2 linked regions of the Homo sapiens genome follow. The protein of the gene in region 2 purifies or fractionates together with the protein of the main gene of each other region. This does not show direct contact. Each region holds a gene or a part of one and is shown on either strand. Other genes may lie near its edges. The genes, in order: MTMR1 and SBF2.

Region 1 (7,508 bases), on a different chromosome or scaffold from region 2:
GAGCATCACCACGGGCCTGAGAAGTCACTCTTCACCTTGCCTCCCACCACACAACTCCAGCTCCAGGTGGCATACAAAAACCATGTGCCTGTCCTCTTAGAGTGATTTCTAGGAATGCAGTATAGTCAGCCCAGCAACTATGACTAGACCCCCATGTGGGCAGAAGGGGGTGGTAGGGCCTGTGTGTGTTTGGAGACAATTCACCATGACTATCTCCGGTTTCAGCATGGTCAGGGTTCTCTGAGGAAATACATTTACAGCCACGTTAGTAAAGTTGGTATGAGGAGACATTCCAATCCAGGGTAGTAAATGTAAATCTCCACAAAGGACATTTGTTTACATCTGATCATTCATTCCAAGGTAACGAGTAATCTCTCTCCCTGCAGGGGAGAATGGGTAGGTCACTAGTAGCCAGAGTTTCCTGCGTTGGGGTTTTCTCTCCTGTGGTGTATCCCATTACATGTGCAGATACTATCTAGCCTCCTATTGGTCAAAGGCAGTTACAGGCCAGCCCCCATTCAAAAGGAGGGGAAATAGGTACCACCTGTTTTTGTTTTGTTTTGTTTCGTTTTGTTTGAGACGGAGTCTCGCACTGTCGCCCAGGCTGGAGTGCAGTGGCAGGATCTCAGCTCACTGCAACCTCTGCCTCCTGGGTTCAAGCGATTCTCCTACCTCAGCCTCCCAAGTAGCTGGGATTATAGGCATGTGCCACCACGCCCGGCTAATTTTTGTATTTTTAGTAGAGATGGGCTTTCGCCACGTTGGCCAGGCTGGTCTTGAACTCCTGACCTCAGGTGATCTGCCCACCTCGGCCTCCCAAAGTGCTAGGATTACAGGCGTGAGCCACCACGCCCAGCCGATACCACCTCTTAATGTAAGAGTGGCAAGGTTGCACTGCAGAACAGCATGCCACCCTGTAGAGACTGGGGTTCAGGATGCAGATCCAAGATATTGCTGTGGCTGCTGATTTTGCTGTGAATAATAAACTGTCTTTGTTTCGGATCCAGAGGCTTTATATTTTCTCTCAGAGTGTTAGAGTGTGGTGATCAACTAAATTTTCAGCTTGCTAGTAGGGTAAAATCTTAGATTATAACAGCTTCTGACCTACTACTGTGGAGTACCCTCCTTGGAGTGTGGCTGTGATTTGTGCATGGATTCCTATAGCTGAATGGGGAAGGGAGCTGAGCAGGTAGGGGATTACTTCTCTGGATCATTCATCAAGAGCAATGCTTGGGTGCTCTATTGCTGCACAAAAAATCACCCCAAAACCTAGTGGCTTAAAACCATAATTCATTAGTTTTCAAAAATCTGTGAGTCAATTGTATGATTCATCAGCTTCATGTGGTGTTGGCTAGGCCACCAGAATGACTGAAAGGCTTGAAATGGCCTCACTCACATAGCTGGCAGTTAGTGCTGGCTTCTGGCCATGCTGCCTGGGGAACTCAGCTAGGGCTATTGGCTGAGAGCTTTGGTTCTCTTCCATATGGGCCTCTCCCTGTGGCTGCTTGGGCTTCCTCAGAGTATGGCAGCTGACTTCCAAGAAGGAGTATGCACAGAAAGCAAACTGGAAGTTGCAAATCCCTTAAGGGTTAGCCTTGGAAATTATACAGCATCACCTCTGCTACATTCTATTGGTCAAAGGGGTTACAGGGCCAGTCCACATTCAAGGAGAAGGTAAACAGAATCCACCTCTTGATGTATGAGTGGTAAGATCACCTTGCAAAAGAGTGTGTGGGATGGGGGATATTATTGCAGCAGTCTTTGGAAGCACAATCTATCAAATGGACGTAGATGGGGGACTATACAATAGTATTTCTCCAAGTGCAGCAAGCCCCGCATCAGAATCATGGGAGCATTTGCTGAAAATGCAGACTGGGGCTGATTCTTGCACACTAACATTTGAGATCTGGTGAGCTGCAGAACAAAGCCCAAACTTCTTGGCCTACCACCAGTCCAGATCCTCACTTATCTTGTCTGACTTTATGCTCCAGTAACACTCGATTTCTTGGCATTCTCTTGCACATAATAAGCTATTTAACCTACAGATAGAGTTTGGATGTTTGTGCCGTCCAAATCTCATGTTGAAATGTGAGCCCTAATGTTGGAGTTGGGGCTGAGTAAGGGGTGTCTGGGTTGCAAACTGGATTGTGAACATCCTGAAGGTGGACCCCTCAGGAAAGGCTTTGTGCCCTCCCCGTGGTAATGAGTGAATCCTCGTTCTATGAGTTCATGCAAGAGCTGGTCGTTTGAAAGAGTCTGGTGCCTCCCTCACCTTTCACTTGCTCCTTCTCTCACCATTTGACATGCCTGTTTCCTCTTCGCCTTCCACCATGATTGTAAGCTTGCTGAGGCCCTTACCAGAAGCAGATGCCAGCACAATGCTTCTTGTACGGTCTGCAGAACTGTGAGCCAAAATAAACTTCTTTTCTTTATAAATTACCAGGTCTCTGGTATTCCTTTACAGCAAAGCAAAACAGATTAATATACCTACTAATCCACACCTTTGCCCATAACTGTGCCTTCTGCCTGGAATAACTTGACTCCTTTGCCTCATCAAGGATTTACTCATCTTTAAAGATTCAGTTTTATGTCACCTTTTTGGGGAAGTTTTCCTGACCTCCTCTTCTCCTATGGATTGGGGTAGGTGTTCCACATCCTGTGCAATTGTCCCCATTATAGCACTTGCCAACTTGTAATGTCATTGTTAATTTGTCTGTCCCCTTCACTGGATTGTGAACATCTTAGGCAGGGATATGTCAGATTCATCTCTGTCCTCTAAATCCTAAGTGTACTTAACTGAATTGGAAGTATGACAGTGTCACAGTGAATTCCTCTTTGGCCTAATGTTTCTTAAAGAATATGGTACTTAAAATATGCTTAAAGTTGCACTGTTTTCTTTCTGACAATTCTCAGCACAGCTAAGATGCTTGCAGCTACTTGTAACAAAATACCCAACTAAAAGTGGGTGTCTTAGTGTGCTTAGGCTGCCAAAACAAAATACCATAGACTGGGTGGCTTAAACAACAGAAATTTTCTCACAACTCTGGAGGCTGGAAAGTCCAAGATTAAGTGTCCAGCAGGGACCTAGTAAGGGCTCTGTTCCTGGCTTGCAGATGGCCACCTTCTTGCTGTGTACTCACACGGCCTTTTCTCAGTGTGTGCATGTGAGTGCATGAGATCAAGCTCTCTGGTGACCCTTCTTAAAAAGCACCAGTTCCATCAGACTAGAGCTTGGCCCTCATGACCTAATTGCCTCTCAAAGACCCCATCTCCAAATACCATCACACAGGGAATTAGGGCTTCAACATATGGACTTCAGGGGGATGAAAACATTCAGTCCATAACAGTGGGTTAACCATTTGATTTAATAATTTTAGAAAGCCAGCAACCTGCAGTCGGTGATTCTCCAGTGTGAGATAGGAGCTATTATTGTCTGGGGATCTTCCTTTCCTTCCTCCTAGCCCTCCTCACTCTGTCATCTTCTTACCCCAGGCTCACCTCCTCTTGTGCGTAAGATGGCTGTCGGGGCTTCAGGCATCATATCCTCAAAGTTCAGTTTGAAGTTATTAAGCTGGTGGGGCAGGATGGGTCTGGGATGGGCATGAGTAACTCCCTGTCTGCAGATCTGCCTTTTAACAGTGAGCAAATTGTTCCCTTTATATCTTCTTTTCCAGACCTGGGTCGCAGGCCTCCTGTCTACACCCAGAGCAATCACAGGCAAAGAGGCTTAATCACGAGCCACACACCCACTCCCAACTTAATCAGGGGTGAGGTGAGAGGGGATGAGCTGTTGGATATTCGAACCCAAACAAAATGAGCAAGGAAATAAATCTAGCCCAGAAAGCAAATGTCCTAAATGCCTCACCAAGATATTGGCTTGATGTTCATAGCAGTGATTTTTTAATCAACAGAAGTTAAATGTTACTCTTAACATAAACCATGGGCGGAAGCTCCGAGGGCGGCATCAGAACACTTGGTTGCCCTACAGATGGCAAGGGGGTGGGTTTGTGGCGGGGCGGCGGGGTGCGTATGGAGGGGGAGAGTGGAGGGAAGAATGGGGTGGGGAGGAATTGCTAAAATGCACGGAATTGCTCCTGCTTCAAGATGTCAAGACCGAGGGAGCTTGAGCTGTTCTATACCTTTTCCGGGAAGGACAACTGAGGTGGGAAATCATTTTTGATACTTGAATGTCTTCAAACTTCTTTTTACACCCCACGTCTCTGCAGTCAACCCGGTGTGACTATAGAGTGAAGCACGCTACGCATAATCCGTTTGGGGATTCCGAACCCCAGTGGCTCTGTACGCACCCAGGTCGCTGGAGCAGGAGGTCCCAGATCCCCGCTGTAAGGCTCCGTGGGCGAGCGCCCAGGTGGGGCTGGGCGAGGTGGGGGTTCCCGGCGCCGGCCCCGCGCGCCGCCCTCCCCGCCCCCGCTCCCGCCCCCCGACCCCCGCGCGCGCGGCCTTGTGGGTAACGCGGGGCCGCCAGGTGACAGCTAATGGCGGCGGCCGCCTGAGGCGGGCGGGCGGTATAGAGCGGGCGGCAGGAGGCAAGCAGCGAAACCTTCCCGGCCGCCGCTCCCGTCCCGACGGCGGCTTCCCCAAGGCGGCAGGACTCGGCGCGCCATGGACAGGCCGGCGGCGGCGGCGGCGGCGGGCTGCGAGGGCGGCGGGGGCCCGAACCCGGGGCCGGCGGGCGGCAGGAGGCCTCCTCGGGCCGCGGGGGGCGCCACCGCCGGCTCCCGGCAGCCCAGCGTGGAGACCCTGGACAGGTAAGCGGGGCCCGGGCTGCCCCGGCCTCCCGCGCCCCGACTCCCGAGGGCCCCGCGCGAGGCCAGCCCGCCCCCTCCCCGCGCGCTGCGCAGGGCCTGGCGGTGGCGGGGTGGGCGGCCCCTCTTCATCCCCTCTGGGCCCTCCTCCCCCCCACCCCCGGAAACCTCAGCGCCCCATCCGGGGACTGCTGCCCTCGGACCTGCTGCGGGCCGCGCACCTGGCTCACTTCCGCCCCGAGAGCCCCAGCTCCTGGAACCCCGGGAGGGGCTTCGCAGCTGTCAAACCACTTCCGGCGCCGCCACCTGCTGCCCTTGGCGATCGCTTGGCTGTCCCTGCCCAGGCCACCAATCCTCTTGGGAGGGAGATCCCACCCGGGCTCTCCTCTTCTAGCATCACCTTGCCTCGTGTGGTTTTAAGACCCCAATTCTGCTGTGGCTGCTTAGGGTCTTTGATGGGGGGTTGGGAGTGAGGACGGGGAGATGGGACCCCGCGGGCGTGGGAGCTGGTGCAGATCGAGGCAAAAATCTGAGATGGAAAACGTCCAAACTGCTCAGGAGGCAAGAAAACAGAACCATTTACTTTCAGTTCTTCACACTTTGAGGGAACCAGTTTATTGTTTTCATGAACACACAAGCAAGCCTACTGCTTCTGAGGCAGCTGCAGAACTAAGAGAAATCAGTTAGAAACATAAAGTGACCGTGTCGAACTGGGAGGGGCCACCGCCTCCTCCGACGACAAGAGATGGCCTATCGTGTAACCCGGAACATCCAGTTTTCCCACAACTTGGCCATTTCCCTGACACCAGAGTGCACTCAGGCAGCATGCACTGTTGGAATGTAGCTCAGTCAGTTTTACATGCCCATTCCTGCCTGTCTTGGTCATCCCATTGTGCCAAACTTTTGGGAGTTTCCAAAAGCACAGAAACAAGAAACATTCCCTTCACTTTTGTTTCTACCTCAGTGTAATTACAATATATTTTAATAAATTAATCACCCAAGTGGTTAGTGTCACTGAAAACCAGTCACAGCTAAGACAGCACTTGAAATGGTGAGGACTTCACTCATCTGCAAATATTCAACCACACACGAGGTCTGGGCGATTCAGAGAATAGCACAACACGGCTTTTGCTGCCTTACCATTTTGCTAGACTTACCATCTAGTGGAGAATACAAACCAACCAACAGTGGAAATCGAATGTGATAAATGAGATAGGTGGTAGAGGCGAACACAGAAGTACTCAGGATGGGCATGCATCAGAATCATTTAAGAAGCCAAAGGAGACCAGAATGTGTCACCCCCAAATATGCCTCATCTTCTGGTTTCCTTCAGAGATTTTGATGATCAGGGAAAGCCTGAGAAAGCTGACATTTGAGTAATGCCCCCAAAGAGGCGAGGGATCCAGCCATACAGATACCTGGGGGTGATAGTATTCTAGTCAGAGGCCTGTGCAAAGCCCCTGAGGTGAATGTGAGCCAAGTGTTCCTAGATCAGCGAGGAGACTAGGTGTCACTAGCAGGGAGGGAGCTAGGGAGAGACAAGTAAGGGATGACGTTAGAGAAGTCACAGAGCCAGATGGTGGAGAGCCTCAGAGGCCATGGGGAGCCACTGGGGACTTTGTGCAGAGGAGTGACATCATCTGTTGTAGATTTCAGTAGGCTCTCCATGGTGCTATGTGGACAATAGAGTGAAAGGGGAAGGAGCTGAAGCAGAGACTGTCAGTAGGAGGCTATTGTAGTAAGCCAAGTGAGATGGTGGTCCAGAGTGGAGCGGAGGAGGGGAGAAGTGGTCAGATACTACATGTAATTTGAAGACCTGCAGGGTAGAGCCAATGGGGTTTGCTGAAGATTGGTTGGTTGGTATGAGAGAAGAATCTGGGAGAATTCCAAAATTTTAGCTTGTGGGAAAATTGTGTTGCTGAGATGGAGAAGTCTTTCTAAGGTGGAGCAGGGTTAGAAAATAGCAGGCTCTTCGCTCTGGACATATCAATTTTGAGATGCCAATTATATGTCCCAGAATAGATGTCAAAGATATAGTTGATCTATCTGAGCCTGGAGTTCAGGGTTGTCTGGGCTGGAGATTCAAACTGGGGAGTCATGGGCTTATAGATGAGGCTTAAATTCATGAGGCAGGTGGAGTTCACAGAAGAATGATGGAGGTCTGGAAAAGGGAATTGGGCTAGGAATAGGGCTGGGTGGATTTTCAAGATGCTTACCAGGTAAGAGTGACCCGACATGGTGAGCATTCAGATGTGAGGGGGGAGTGCCGGGTGGACTCCAAGGCAAACCTCAGCTTTCTAGCGTGTGGGGGCCGGATAACTGGCTGTGCTGCGCCCTGAGTTAGGAAACACAGGAGCAGAGTAGGTTGCGGGGCTGAGCGGCTGATGCTGGTTTAGACAGGTTGAATTGGCAGGGTCTCTGGGCCAGACTAGTGGACAGGTCTTGTAGGAACATCAGCATTGAGATCAGGAGAGTCCAGGTTGGAGAAACAGAGCTGGGAGCCTCCAGCCTGTAAGTAGTTATTGACACCAGGAGTATAGAGGGCAATTGCACAGACTACAGAGAAGGGATGGGGGAGGAATCATGGCCTCCTTTCTCAGTTCTGTCAGCTCAACAAGCTCAGATTCACACTTTTCTTTGAAGAGTGACCTCTAGAATGGAACCTGGCTCTATGGGTGGGACTTGGCCATGTCCCTGGGACTATGGGGCCTTCACTTCTCTTCTGAATACTGTAATTAATAA
Region 2 (7,273 bases):
GGTTCACAGTTGGCTCAGGAGACATCTTCTGATCATTAACCACTAAGACCCTGTTAGAAAAATTTAGTGCAAGATACAGGGAGTGCATGGGGCTGTTGACCAGACCTGTGTGAAACACCTATTCAGGTTAAGTAGATATAGCAACCCCTGCAAGAGGGGACTGGGCAGGAGAACCTCAGGCCCTGGGATAACTTGTTGTCAGCTCCTCAAGGATCCATGCTTCTTTTTCTATCTATCTGGCAGCATGAGTTCTTCTGTTTCTTCTGCGTGGGTTGACCATGGGCATCAGGCATCAGAGATACAACTCTGGATCTTGTCCATCCATTGCTGGGCACTCTGTCCATCCTGGGCGCAGAAGTTATACACACGTTTGCTGGTCTTGAGCTACAAAACCAAATGACAGTGAACCAGAGATGAAGGGCAGGGCTGTTTTATGGATTTGGGTAAGTGGTAAATCAGTTCCTGTGACCTTTCTTTTCCATACTGCCCCAGAACGTCTGTATGAATTTTTCTTCCTCAACTACCATACTGTTATTGCCTTTACTTTTGTGGTCTCTAGAGTCATAGGGGATGTTGATAGAAGGGTACTGGCAGGAAAGGGAGACACACTGGGAGCGCCTTATTTTGCATTTTCTTAGTGTCGTCTTTGACTAAGGAGGAAGGGTCAGCAATGAATGGTGCCTTTAACCTTTCCCATGCACTGCACCAATGCACTGAAGGTGAGGGAGCTCCTTGTGCTCCAGGGGGATGCCTGAGATTCATGCATACCATAAAGTTGGCCTTCGTGTCCCCTTTCTTTAGTTGGAGCCATATTGGAAGCCCACTGTCAGGAAAACGGTCTCATGGCCTGAGCAGGGCCATAGAGGATGACCTATCCTCTTTATAAAGCCCTGCTTGACTCCAGGGACTACATAAGTCTCCTTCTATTATGTGGCCTATAAAGTGCCCCATGGCCTACCTAAGGGCTGCTGAAGATGTTAGCGTAGACACTTATCATGTGTGACTAAGGACAGTCTTTTGTGGGTAGTCAAGCACGAAGACCACTGAATACTAGGGAAATAGCATCTGTTCTTGAAAGTAGGTGGTGACTGAAATAACTAACAACATTTAACAAGGAGTTCATCTGTTTCCATGTGCGCTGGACTCCTTTTGCACAAAGCAATATGTAGCTTTTCTGAGACATACAGACAGGAAGAGAGGATAGCCTTGGGGGTCAATAATGCTGAGTTCAAGCTCTGGAACAATTCCCATAGCCAAGGGGGTCTGTCATCCATCTGTAGTCACCACCAATTACTCTGAGGGCTCCATCATTCTTGGAGACAGACAGAATGATGTGCAGACAGAGCCAGGAAAAGAGAAGTAAGATCAACTTACATCAAAGAAAGCCTTGTCACTTGTGTGCTTTGGGGCTCCCATGCTGGGGCCAGCAGGGATGACCATTTCTACTTCAGCCAGATCAATGTGGCCTTTACAGCTTGTGTCCTCACCTGAGTCATAGTAGCGCAGCTGGAACCAAAAGGATACAAGTGAGATATAAGAGACAGAAAGAGAAAATGCCATGGCTTTTCAAACTGCATTTGAATACCTTCCTCTGTACCTTGGTTATATATGCTGAACTATGCCTCGAAGAATACACAAAAAATTAATTAATAATACTTGTTGCTTCTAGGAAGAACTAGGTGGCTTGGAGAAAGCATTGGGGGAAAGACTTATGTACTGTTTGAAAATCAAACAAATAAATGTATTACATCTTAAAAAATAGAATCAAGGCTGGGCATGGTGGTTTATGCCTGTAATCCCAGTCCTTTTTGGGAGGTGAAGGTGGACGGATCACTTAAGCCCAGGAGTTCGAGACCAGCCTGGGCAACATGGTGAAACCCCGTCTCTACAAAAACATACAAAAATCAGCCAATCGTGGTGGTGCATGCCCGTAGTTGCAGCTACCCAGGAGGCTGAGGTGGGAGGATTGCTTGAGCCTGTGAGGTCGAGCTGCAGTGAGCTGAGATCCTGCCACTGCACTCCAGCCTGAGTAAGACCCTGTCTCAAAAAATAAAAAAAAAAAAAAGAAGTCAAGTAACAACTGTAAAAAGTATATGTAACATATAAAAAGAGGGCTAATGTTTAGTAATATACAGAATTCCCAGAAATTGATAAGAAAAAGATAAAGTAGAAAAATGCTCAAAATATCTCAACAGGCGAGTCACAGAGAAATACAAATGATCTATAAACATCTGAAAAGATGATCAACCTCATTAATCAAAGAAAAATAAATGACAATAAATGAGATTTCACTTTTGGATTGAGAAATATTAAAAATGGCTGATGATATCCAATAAGGTACTAGATCATCTCAAATACTGCCAGTGTGAATATAATTTGTTAGAAATTTTTTGGAGAACAATTTGGCAATATCAACTAAAATTTAGAATGTTTATGCCTATTGAAACATCTTTCCAGGCCGGGCACGGTTGCTCATGCCTGTAATCCTAACACTTTGGGAGGCTGAGGCGGGTGGATCACTTGAGGTCAGGAGTTTGAGACCAGCCTGACCAATATGGTGAAACCCCGTCTCTACTAAAAATACAAAAATTAGCTGGGCATGGTGGCAGGCGCCTGTAATCCCAGCTACTCGGGAGGCTGAGCCAGAGAATGGCGAGAACCCAGGAGGTGGAGCTTGCAGTGAGCCGAGATTGCACCACTGCACTCCAGCCTGGGTGACAAAGCGAGACTCTGTCTCAAAAGAAAAAAAAAAAAAAAGAAAAAAGGAAAAAAGTCAAAGAGACTGCTAGGGAATAAGCCTTATTGGGCCATAATCTGTGGATTTCACTCTCTAGTATACATGGCAAGAAAGTGGTGCTTCTGATACCGTGGCTCTGACCTGAGACTTTTCTCTGTCTCTCCTCTCAGGCATGGTATGAGCAGGGCTAAGTGGAAAAAACTGTATCTATCTTTCATGTTAAAGAAGTCCAGAAGACTGGTAAGAATGCAAGTGTAATTTGATGTAAATTATAGAAAAATTATGACATTCTCCTATGTTATATTTAGAAGCTTAATGGAACTTTTTTACACAGTGTAGGCTCTATGATTTCAGAGTATAGCTCCCTAACAGGGCTTCCATTTGTATATTTGAACATAAATTATCTATCTATATTGTCCCACAAAGACTCTGTAATCGTTATGAAACTCCTTGAGCAGAGGAAAAGCTGGACTCCAAATACAGTCTTCATTTGGAAGGAGTCTTTTAGATGCAGGTCCAACCAAAGCACTGTACAGGAGTAACAGTTCAGGTTTTTCCTAACAGATTCCATTTTATAGATAAATGCATTGAGAATCAAAATGTGTAAGCCTCAGCCTCAAGGCTGAGTGGTCAGTCCCAAGGTGGAGTTAAGGCCTGCAGTCAGAACACAGGAGACCATGCAGCTCTCAGTAATGCAGGGTGCAGAGTTGCTGGAGGTTTGGGTAGGAACTGCTCTCCCTTGAAATCACTGGAGTAAAGACTATGATGCTAAGGATTGCAGAGGCTGCTACAGGAATAGCTAAGAACCTAACAGTAGTCAAAAGATTTCTTGACATAGTCAGCAAGGACCAGTCTAGTACTTGCCCACGGTGAATTCCAAGTTTGGGTGGGCACATCCCCTTCTGCCGCTTTTGGGGCCCCTTTACTCCCCTGTTGCTGCCATCTTTGAAGGGTAACAGTGCCTCCTTTAGTAACCAGTACAGCAGTGGGCACAGAGGTGGTGTTCGATAAATGTTTGTAGAATAAATTAATGCCCTCTGTTTTGAATGGATGCTTTCTGCTGCGAGGACGAAGGTAACTTGTATTCTGGGGAGTGTTCACAGGCATAGGCTTATATGTGCATGTGGTATGTATGCAACTGGCTGAAAACCTCAGGAATCCCCTCACCTGGGTGTTAAGATCAGGCAGCAAGAGATATTTGAGCATTAAAAAAAGAGTTCTATTGCTCTATGCTCTGGGCTCAATTGTTGCTGCCTCTGCCTGCATGTACCAGGCCGAGCTACTTGGGAAACTCCCTCAGAAGGCTATTGCCCTTACTCAGGGACATCTGGGGCCCTTGAGGAGCCTCCAGACTACATATGAGAGGCACTAAAAAAGCAGTCTGTACATGAGGAATCTATCTGTCTGCTAGAGCCACATAATAGCCAGGGACTGGGACTAGCCTAGACAGAAGTAATTTCTTTTGGCTTTAAGAGTATTACCTGATGTTTTGTTACATCCAAAACAAACCAACGGGGCTTCCAACCTTTCAGCAAAGCCCCTCTTTTATAAAGTGTTCCCTCAAAGGACCTAGAAGAAATGATGACAGGAGAGTTAATTTTGATTTACACTTACAAAATGCTGTAAAGGGGAGGGGATATCTGTTGTTTTTGTCAAGTCTCTATTTCCCCTAGATGATTCAAAAATGGCCTATAAGAGTTCTCCCTGGATTTTTTCTGCTAGACCTCTGGGGAAAGACTGCTGCTTTCTGCTGGGATTACCACATCTGTGAGGCTTGGAATGATCAGTAGCCATCCTTTGTGCCATGTTGGGACTGACATAACACAGAGAGAGGGCAAAGCAGAGCCAGGAAGTGGATAGAAGATACTGTGTGAGAAGCTAGCATACCCTTGGCTGTCCTAGCTTATGTGAGTAAATTCCTTTTTGCTTCAGCTAGCATAAGCTGGATTTCTGATGTGTGCCACTGACAAAGTGCTGGCTGACACATGTTCCCTCAAACGTTCTGGCAGACAGGAGATAAGAGCCATCAGGACTCAACTACAAATAACTACAACCTCTTCGAATTATTTTTAGTTGTAATTTTTGTTTTTTGTCTTTTCAAAGAAACATCTAAAACATTACAAAAATTAAAGCAAATCCATTTCAAGTTTATAAAAGGCTGTACTGCACAGGCCTAGCTTATTGAGGGACCTGTGGTTTAGCCTCAGGTGCTGTGGGGAAGTCTTCAGCACAGCGAGCAGGGTTCAGCATGTCACCTGTTTTCATCATTCTTGGATGTATACTGGCTATAGAGCGTGGCTGCTCTTCGCTCCACTCCATTGGATGGGGAGATGCTGGAATTCTGTTCCTCCCCCATGCTGCTGTCTGGGAGATGTAGCAGAGACCTCTTCTGATAGGAAGGTAGGTTGGTAGACACAATTCCTGGGGATCTCGACAGGTGTCTTTGGGACTGAAAAAGACAGGACAGGAGCTAGGAAACCTTTACAGACACTTAAACTACTGACTGGAAAATTTCATTTACAAATATTTATCTCAAGGAAAAAACTGGACTAATAAGCAACAATAATGTACAAAGGTATCAATCTCAGAGTTAGTTATCGTGGTAAAAAACTGGAAACAACCTACACGTCCATTATTAGGGACATTAAACAAATTATGGCATTTCCATACAGTGGAATTCTAGACAGCCATTAAAAAATGATGCTGCTATGACCAGGCGTGGTGGCTCATGCATGTAATCCTAGCACTTTGGGAGGCCGAGGTGAGTGGATCACTTGAGTCCAGGAGTTCGAGACCAGCCTGGGCAACATGGCGAAGCCCCATTTCTACAAAAAATATTTTAAAAATGAGCCAGGTATGGTGGTGTGTGCCTGTAGTCCCAGCTACTTGGGATGATCACCAGAACCCTGGAGGTTGAGGCTGCAGTGAGCCATGATCACGCCACTGCACTCCAGCCTAGGTGACAGAGTGAGACACTATCTCAAAAAAAATAAAGATGTTGATGGTTTTTTTTTTGAGACAGGGTCTCACTCTATCGCCCAGGCTGGAGTACAGTGGCATGATCTCGGCTTACTGCAACCTCTGCCTGCTGGGTTCAAGTGATTCTCCTGACTCAGCCTCCCAAGTAGCTGGGATTACAGGCACACACTACCATGCCTGGCTAATTTTTTGTATTTTTAGTAGAGACAGAGTTTCACCATGCTGGCTATGCTGGTCTCGAACTCCTGACTTCATGCCTGCCTCGGCCTCCCAAAGTGCTGGGATTACAGGCATGAGCCACTGCGCCTGGCAGACACTGGTTTATACACAGTGACAGTTGGAAGGACACGTATGCCAACGTGGAGTGAAAAAGCAGGTTTAAAATAGTATGTCTAGAAAATCTCTTTTATATGTGAATTTATAAGGGTAAAACAAGTTTGATAGCATAGTGGTTTACTTCTAGGTTATAAATTATGGGTGATTCTCATCTTTTATAACTTTCTGTGTGTTCTTTCAAAAAAATGAACATTATTACTTTCATTATTAGAAAAAATCAATAAACTATTATTTTTCTAACAAAAAAGCATTAAGGCATCACCCACCTGTTGTCTGTCTGATAACAGCTCCTGAATTGCTATTTGAGGGTAAGAGATAGAGCCCCAGATGTTCTTTTTTTACCACAAAGGTTTTCTTCTACCCTCCATTCTTCTTGACCTTTCTGTAACATCTGACCTGCTGGCCTCTTCTTCCTGAACTGTTCTTCAGAACACTCATCTGTCCTAATTTCCCTTCTGTTGCATTTGGAGCCAGTCTGATGTGGGTTCGATTGGTGGCTCTACCAGTTGCCACTGTATGCTCTCTGTGCCTGTTCCTTGTGTAGGAGAGGGAACGCCATTCCCTCACAGTGGATTAAATAGGATACGAAGGTGTGTACTGTACTAAGCACAGACCCTTCCACATATTATGTGCTTGATAAATGTTTCTTAAATCAGAAATAGGAAATGGGGTATGAGAAGCAGAAAACAGAGTATTTGGTTTTAAAATATATATATACATTTTTTTGAGACGGAGTCTTGTTCTGTCACGAGGCTGGAGTGTGGTGGCACGATCTCGGCTCACTCACTGCAACCTCCGCCTCCTGAGTTCAAGAGATTCTCCTGCCTCAGCCTCCTGAGTAGCTGGGATTACAGGCATGCGCCACCACACCCAGCTAATTTTTGTATTTTTAGTAGAGACGGGGTTTCACCATGTTGGCCAGGATGGTCTCGATCTCTTGACCTCGTGATCCGCCCACCTCGGCCTCCCAAAGTGCTGGGATTATAGGCGTGAGCCACCGCACCCGGCCGTTAAAATATTTTTATGATAAATGTTTCTTAAGTCAGAAACAGAAAAGGGACTGTGAACAACACAGGGTAGCATATTTTGTTGTTTTAAAATACTTTCTGTGGAGCAAACGTGGTCTTGGCATTCCCCTCCTGCCTTATGTGGTAGAAGATCAGCTGAAACCACACGGGCACTGAGATAGAAAAGAACCCAATACTTTTCCTTGGATTCGGG

The links.
Region 1: the proteins of SBF2 (region 2) and MTMR1 purify together in Homo sapiens (affinity purification with mass spectrometry; 3 studies listed by BioGRID and IntAct, with this or other methods). This does not show direct contact.

Annotation. Positions count from the first base shown.
Region 1 is NC_000023.11:150,688,908-150,696,415, forward strand, and holds the start of MTMR1 (phosphatidylinositol-3-phosphate phosphatase MTMR1), read left to right. Parts: upstream 1-4,488; 5' UTR 4,489-4,623; coding exon 4,624-4,769; intron 4,770-7,508. UniProt on the Homo sapiens protein: Lipid phosphatase that specifically dephosphorylates the D-3 position of phosphatidylinositol 3-phosphate, generating phosphatidylinositol. Could also dephosphorylate phosphatidylinositol 3,5-bisphosphate to produce phosphatidylinositol 5-phosphate.
Region 2 is NC_000011.10:9,780,133-9,787,405, forward strand, and holds part of SBF2 (myotubularin-related protein 13), read right to left. Parts: intron 5,187-7,273; coding exon 4,993-5,186; intron 4,307-4,992; coding exon 4,219-4,306; intron 2,978-4,218; exon of another isoform or gene 2,908-2,977; intron 1,507-2,907; coding exon 1,375-1,506; intron 444-1,374; exon of another isoform or gene 415-443; intron 385-414; coding exon 286-384; 3' UTR 1-285. UniProt on the Homo sapiens protein: Guanine nucleotide exchange factor (GEF) which activates RAB21 and possibly RAB28. Promotes the exchange of GDP to GTP, converting inactive GDP-bound Rab proteins into their active GTP-bound form.